2 linked regions of the Homo sapiens genome follow. The protein of the gene in region 2 interacts with the protein of the main gene of each other region in a biochemical or structural test. Each region holds a gene or a part of one and is shown on either strand. Other genes may lie near its edges. The genes, in order: POLI and DEXI.

Region 1 (3,821 bases), on a different chromosome or scaffold from region 2:
TCATTTATGTATTTTTTTCTGTTAACGTATTCACTTGCACCTGTTTTTAATTTGGGTTGTTCATCTTTTTCTAAGTACTAAGTACCTAGTACTTTTTGTGTTAGGTATTTTTTGAAAAAAGTTACTTTATCAATTTTTCTCACAGTATTTTTCTGAGTTGAAGTAGGCGCGTAGCCAGTTAGTCCTTTACTGTATTTATCTCTGATCTGTTTATAACCTTATTATTTATTTCATATTTTGATGCTACTGCATATATACCTTTCTTCAAGGTATTTTTTTTTTCTGTAATTACAGACTCCTCTTTTGGGCCCTATATAATTATATGTTTAATAAATGTATCTTGCTTATGAAGTTGATACCAAGAAAGAGGTTAACTTCAGGAATGGAGGCTGGGCATGGTGGCTTATGCCTGTAATCCCAACACTTTGGGAGGCTGTGGTGGGGTATCATTTGAGGTCAGTCTGGGCAATATAACATAGCAAGACCCTGTCTCTACAAAAGTTAAAAAAAAAAAAAGTTAGCTGGTAGCATGTGCCTGCAGTCCCAGAGGCCGAGGTAGGAGGATTGCTTGGGCCCAGGAGGTCAAGGCTGTACTGAGCTGTGGTGTGCTACTCCACTCCAGCCTGGGCAACAGTGAGACCCTGTCTCATTAAAACTACAGCAACAACAAAAACCTTCAGGGACGGGATAATTAGGGATTTGTCCTGTGACCTAAAATCAGTCAATATTTAGTGATCCACCAGCTTCGTGCATGATTCTGTATTTAACTTGCTTTTCTATTTAGTGCTTAAAGCCTTATCCTTTATTTTTCTTATGTAGTATTCTTTTGATAAACTCTTGTTTTCTACATGTTACTTTGCATATCAGGTATATACTTTTGAAAATAAATTGCCGAAATTGATGAAGGAAATGCAAAACAATCATTTTCTTTGATTAGACATATTGTCAGTCTGTCCTGAAAGGAGGTAATAGTTTTCTCTAGGTAATAGTTTTCTCAGGAGTGATTTTTGGTGTTTGCCATGTCACATTGTTACCTTTATTGGTTTCCCCTCACATTGTCAATGTTGACATCAACAAAACAAAAAAGCACCTTTGGTGTTTGTGAAAAAACATGATCTATGTGGAATGAGATAGTCCTTTTATTTCTGAGCTTCAGATTATATGACCTTAAGAATCTATGCATTTTTGTATACTAAGAGACTTGCATTTGTTTTCTCTTATCCAGCTGGTGTCAGTAGAAAGTGATTCAGAGGGAAGTGAAAAACTTTCTCAATGATTTTAAAGTTATTAGTCTCAATGTTAATATATGAAAATTGATAGTTTTTTTGAATTTATTTTGAATTTTGGTTCAGCTTAATCTAGTAAACATTTGACTTGAGGACTAGATATTGTGCTAGACGCTGGGCATTTGAATACCTGTAAGTTGTGGTTCATCTCTGCCTCTCTGTCCTAAGGAATATTCTTGGGAATGGCTAATAAAAATACCACGTTATAGTATATTTTGAAAGTTGACTGACTTTCTGTTTTATTCAGTAATAATTGGACATTTTAAATATTATTTTGTTTTGCCTCTTTTAAACTCTTGGAGAAAATATAGCTAAAATATACTATTACTTGTTTTTAACTTTCCTGAGCAGCCTATAGTTTATTCTTTGACACATTTCTTCAAGGTCACCAATTTACTATAAGCATTGATATTTAATGTACTACAGATATAAAAATTATAGGTGTAGAAGATTGAGCTAGATATATTGCCATGAATAACTGCCCTAGGAATGTCATTTTTAGACTTTTTTGAAAATATTGCCTTTATACAAGATGTGGTACAGAAAAAACGTCAATTAACTGAGGGCTTTATTAAAGATATTATGGAACTATGAATGTATATAAAACCTTTAACAATAAATTTGATAAATTTTTAAGCACTAGATAGTTAAATTTATCCTAGTTATAACTTCATTTACATTTGTGCTCCAATATTATTTCAATTTAGAATTACTGGAAGAATTTAGTCCAGTTGTTGAGAGACTTGGATTTGATGAAAATTTTGTGGATCTAACAGAAATGGTTGAGAAGAGACTACAGCAGCTGCAAAGTGATGAACTTTCTGCGGTGACTGTGTCGGGTCATGTATACAATAATCAGTGTGAGTGGGTTCTTATTCATTCTACCTACTAACCAAAAGTACATACATTTCTTAATGTTCAGTGAGTTCGCTGTGTGATTCTGAAAGATTCATGACTTTTGTTGGAGGTATAGTTATATTTAGTCAGTAATCTGTCTAGGACAGCTAAAATTAGGTGCTGCTATTCCATAATAAGTGTTAAGATTTTGATGACATGTAGCTCAATGCTCTGTGCACTTTTCATTTGCACAGAGCATTGTTCCTGTTCATCTGCACAGAGCATTCATCTGTGCAGAGTTTTCGTCTGACACAGTGCATTGGTTCCCATTTTAGAAAGCCATACCCAGCTGGGCACAGTGGAGCGCCCCTGTAGTCCCAGCTGTTTGGGAGACTGAGCTGAGAAGATTGCTTGAACCCAGGAGTTTGAGTCCAGCCTAGGCAACAGAGCAAGATCCCATCTCTTAAGGAAACAAAAAGCCATACCTCTGTAGGTCATTCTTAAGTTGTAAGAGTTGGCTTCTTAATATGCTTTTTGGAATAATTTTTTATTATTCTAAAACAATCTCTAAGCAGAGTTTTCAGGTAGGCTAGATTTGCCTTTGATGTGTCTTTTACATGTTCCCTTCGATTCCCCTTTGATGTGTGTTTTACATGTTCACTTCGATTCCCCTGAGACCCTCATGTTGCTCTCTGAATTCCCAAGTTAGCACTTTTGGAATGTTGTCCAGGGCTATCTGCCATGTGCTAGAATCTTCTCCAAGCTCCTATTTAATCTGTTCAAATAATCTTTGTCAAAGTTAGCAAGAAAGCAGAATGGTTTGTCTCCTTCATATATTGAGATATGAATGACTGATGGTGTTTCCAGTGATATTTACATTTGAAAATAAGCTGCAGTAAGCACCAGTGAATATCTGATTAGGCTTTCAGACATCTTATGACTCTGCTGGTGACTCCCCTATCATACCACATACAAGACAAGGTACTCTGCTGTTGTGTAAGACTTGTCTGACCCTTTTGCTCTTAAGCCTCCCCATGCATTTCCTCTTATCCTCTTTTTTGAGAACTAGACATCGGTCTACAGAATAGTTCTCCACAGAAGAAAAGCAGTAGAACCACAGTTTCTAGAATACATGGAGCTTTTCCTGTATCTTTTGTACTTGTGCTCATTTGTAACTTAAAAGGGCTAACTAGCAAGAATATTTCAAATATATTTCTGTATAATTTTTAAGGCAAACTTGGATTTTATTGGTTAGAGTACATTATAGAGAGCTAGGTTTTATATCCCAAAAAGGGAAATGTGGAATTATTGATTAATTCTTCCTCTTTCATACAGATTTTATTAAAATTTTTTGTAAACCTACAGAAAAGTTGACAGAATAGTACAAAAAATACCCATTATGTCTTTTCTTTTTTTTTTTTTTTTTTTGAGACAGAGTCTCACTCTGTCGCCCAGGCCGGAGTGCAGTGATGTGATCTCGGCTCACTGCAACCTCCACCTCCTGGGTTCAAGCAATTCTCCTGCTTCAGCCTCCCGACTAGCTGGGACTACAGGCATGTGCCACTACACCCGGCTAATTTTTTTATTTTTAGTAGAGACGGGGTTTCACCATGTTGGCCAGGCTGGTCTTGAACTCCTAATCTCAGATGATCCGCTTGCCTTGGCCTCCCAAAGTGCTGGGATTATAGGCATGAGCCA
Region 2 (3,821 bases):
CCCCTTTTTATTGTTAAGGGACACTACTGGGACAATTTTTTTTTTTTTTCGTTTTGAGACAGGGTCTCGCTCAGTCACCCAGGCTGGAGTGCAGTGGTGGAATAATAACTCACTGCAGCCTTGAACTCCCGGACTCAAGCAATCCTCCTGCCTGAGCCTTCCGAGTAACTGGGACTATGGGCGTGTACCACAACACCTCGCTATTTTTTTTTTCCTACTTTTTGTAGAGACGGGGTCTCACTATGTTGCCCAGGCTGGTTTCAAACTCAAGTGATCCTTCCACCTCAGCCTCTATAAAATTTGAATAAAGTTGTAGATGAGATTGGTCATAGGATTGTATAGTGTATCAATATTAGATTTGCTGATTTTGACAACCCTACTGTGGTTATGCAAATTTGTCCTTGTTCTAAGGAAATAAATACTGAATTATTTAGGAGTAAAGGTGCATAATGAACCCATTTTCAAATGCTTATGAAAATTACACATATACACATGTGTGCATATACACAGGCATGCATATACAAACAGAGGGAAGAGCATGCACGTGTACATGAGCAAAGTGCTAACTGGTGCAACTGGTGAGTTTGGGCGGGCATTGTTTGTGCTCTTGCAACTTTTCTGTAAGTGTGAAATTACTTCATAACAGAGGTTTTTGTTTGTTTGTTTGTTTTTAATTCAGGAAAAAGTTGGAAGAGTGCGTATGAAATAGGCCTGGCAGAAACTATGAGCTGGTGTTCCAAGGTCGGGGATGGGGAGCCCTCACTGGAGGCACCCCTCAAACCCTCAGTGCTGTGGCCAGGGAACCGGGCTGGCAGTCTTAGTTGGCTTTGTTCCCTCGGCCTCCACTTCCCCATTCTGTGCCTCCATTTATTTGTGAGACAGGGATAAAGAGGTCTGCCACTTTTATTGTGATCTTAGGTTTCCCAAAAGCCGAGTATGCTTTCAGAAGTTCTGGGAGGAAAGCTAGCAGATAAACCAGAAATATGAATATCCAAATTGAGAGAAGCCCTCACTTTCTTAGTTCGGCAAAACAGACACATGAGCTGTAAGTGGGGCAGACCCTGCCTGTTTCTTGGCTGAAATCTCCAGTTTGTATAATTCAGGGCTAAGAGAGCAGGACTCTTGACATCTCACTGTCTTGAGACACATACTGGGGTTTTCTCCTGTCTGAAGACGCAGCTGGCACCAATGTACCCTATGGCCAAGGACCTTCTGGGTGAGCCTCATGTCAGGAGCAGAGCTGGAGAGGTGGCCAGGCCTGGGGGTATACTTGCCTCCCTGTGTCACCATTGTCTGTCTCTTGCTTAGATGACAGCCACAGCTTCCTGGCCTGGTTTCCTGCATCCGCCCTGACCCCTGGCTGTGGGATCTCCCATAACTCAAATCTGACTGTGTCCCTGTGGAAGGTTTGGGTTTCTGACCTGGGCAGCTCTATGTCCGGCACAGGGGTTCTGCTGATAGCACAGGCCACAGATTGGCAAGGAGGGACCAGGTTAGGAAGGAGCAGCTGTGGTTCCTAGTTGGGAGATAACTGAAGCCTAGGAAATCCTGGAATAAGATAGACCAATGCATCGATAACCCTCAGCTCCAAATCTGAGCTGCACCAGGACAAGCTGACTCTGGTGGCAACGTTCTCCAGTCTCTGCATTTTCAGCTCGCTGTGTGCCAAGAGAGGGCTGGCAGGTACCAGCAGCTTTCACTTTCATTAGGAACCGGGACGAATAATCCAACTGAGCTGCCTCTGCACCAGAACTGCTGGGACGTGAAGACTCTCCCTGGCTCCCAGGCCAGCCACTGCAGCCCTTTCTCCTGGGAAGGAGGGAGCTCCCGATTCCCCATTCCCTGCTCCTGGGCAACAATTAACACTCTAGGAAAACCACAGAGCCGGCTATCCAGGGTTCTGGTGCCCTGGGGACCACAGGGCAGCAAGAAAGTTCTCCTAAGGGTCCTGGGGCTGGGAAGGCAGAGTGGGAAGTCTCCCCCAGCTAGGCTAGACCTGGACCTCCCTGGCACTCAGGCAGCCTGTCCTCTTCTGCTCACAGGATATAAATATTCATGCATGAGTATAGGTGCAGGTTTGTACATTTGCAAGGGCATGGGTATAACACGCTTTCCATTGTATCCGACTATGAATATGAGTGGTTAATATTAATACATCTCTTACTATATACAAGGAGATCTAAGTGCTTTATGTATATCTCACCTAATCCTCACAACAAGGGAGATTTTCATTATTTCCATCTTCTAGAAGAGGAAACCAAAGTACAGGGAGGTTAAGCAGCATGCCCAAGGTCACAGCTACCCTGGGATGTGAACCCAGGGCCCTGGCTCTTAACCATGACCCTAATACTGCCTCCTCAAGTAGGTGCTCAGCAAATGTTTGAGGAACTGAATTATGTGGGTCCACACATAAGAGAAAAAAAAAAAAAAGAGGGAGCAAAAGTAGGTGCACCTGTTCATCTTGAGATTCATCCTGGGCCCCACTGTGTGACATGCTCCACGCCCTTAGTCACTGTTTCCTGGATTGGCGTGTGGGGAACACATGTGACCACATGAGAATGGCTGAGAAAGAGCAGGACTGACTACCGGCGTTCCCCTGCTTATGGAAAGGGGCCTGGAGATGAGGCTCGGTCAGATCATCTTGAGGTCTTTCCTGGCGGCTTCCCTGCTGCTAGCTACCCCTCTCATACCCTGGGGTTCTGAGCTTCCTCGGCACTTGGGGGCAAGGCCTCCTTGGCTTGGATTTGAGGGTGGGGAGGAGGGAAGGCTGTGCATGGCTTCCACCACTTCTCCAGGCCTCCCCACTTCCCAGGGTCAGGCCCTGACACCCCGAGAGCTTTGCAAGGGTGTCCCTGAGAGATATTTCCTGGTGTTTCTGCTTAAACAGCGTTTGCTGCAAAATATGTCGAAGCATTTGGGATTCAGTTTTTAGTTCAGAATATGCCAATGTTTTCATTTGGAAGGGGAAGTGTTTCTGTTGATGTGGTAAAGAGATAAAATAAGACGTTCCTCACCAAGTTACACTGCTTCAAAGTCAAATGCTTGGCTTGGAGACAGGGATTTATCTTGGGATCGCAGGCCCTTAGCACACGGCCTGGCAGAAGAGCAGGCAGGGTCAAAGTCTGTTGAATGAGTGAGTGCATATGCAAAGGGCCTAGACACAGGAGTGCGATACAATCAATGCTCAGTACAGATTTTGAATGGATTCCATAGGTTCTACTTTTGAGAGTTGTTCTCAGTCTGTTCATGTTTCTCTATCTTCACTAAACTCCCCTCATCCAAGCCTCTGTCACCTCTGGCCTGGACAACTAACAGCATCTGAGGTGGTGGCCCTGCTTCCCCTCTTACCCCTCAGCTCATTCTGTCCACAATTGCCAGAGTCATTTTTGCAAAATGGGAATGGGATTGTGTCATCTCCTGCCTAGAACCTTCCAATGGCTTTCCACTGCTCTTGGCTATGGCCTTCCAGGTCCTCCATGGTATGGCTCCCACCCACCTCACTGACCTTTCCTGGGGCTGTTCTCCAGCCACATGGGCCTCCTTTTGGTTGCGGAAAAACCAACTCTCTCTCACCTGAAGGTCTTGGCACCACTGATTCCCTCAGCCTGGACTGCTTTTCTCCAGATCCTTCTATCAAATTAAGGCTCAGCTCAAAAGCATCATCTCCTTAGAGAGGCTTTCTCTGACCCCTCAGCTAAAGCAGCCCACCATCTCTATCCTACCGTTTCACTTCTGTTTCACTCCATGTCTACACCTACAGAGACCGTCTACTAGAGGCCAGGCACAGTTTTAAGTGTTGAGGACATGGCAGTGAACACAAC

Evidence for each region.
Region 1: the proteins of DEXI (region 2) and POLI form a complex in vitro, tested with the Homo sapiens proteins (one large-scale study listed by BioGRID).

What each region holds. Positions count from the first base shown.
Region 1 is NC_000018.10:54,275,710-54,279,530, forward strand, and holds part of POLI (DNA polymerase iota isoform a (long)), read left to right. Parts: intron 1-1,993; coding exon 1,994-2,146; intron 2,147-3,821. UniProt on the Homo sapiens protein: Error-prone DNA polymerase specifically involved in DNA repair. Plays an important role in translesion synthesis, where the normal high-fidelity DNA polymerases cannot proceed and DNA synthesis stalls. Favors Hoogsteen base-pairing in the active site.
Region 2 is NC_000016.10:10,935,954-10,939,774, forward strand, and holds part of DEXI (dexamethasone-induced protein), read right to left. Parts: intron 2,169-3,821; exon of another isoform or gene 680-2,168; intron 442-679; exon of another isoform or gene 1-441.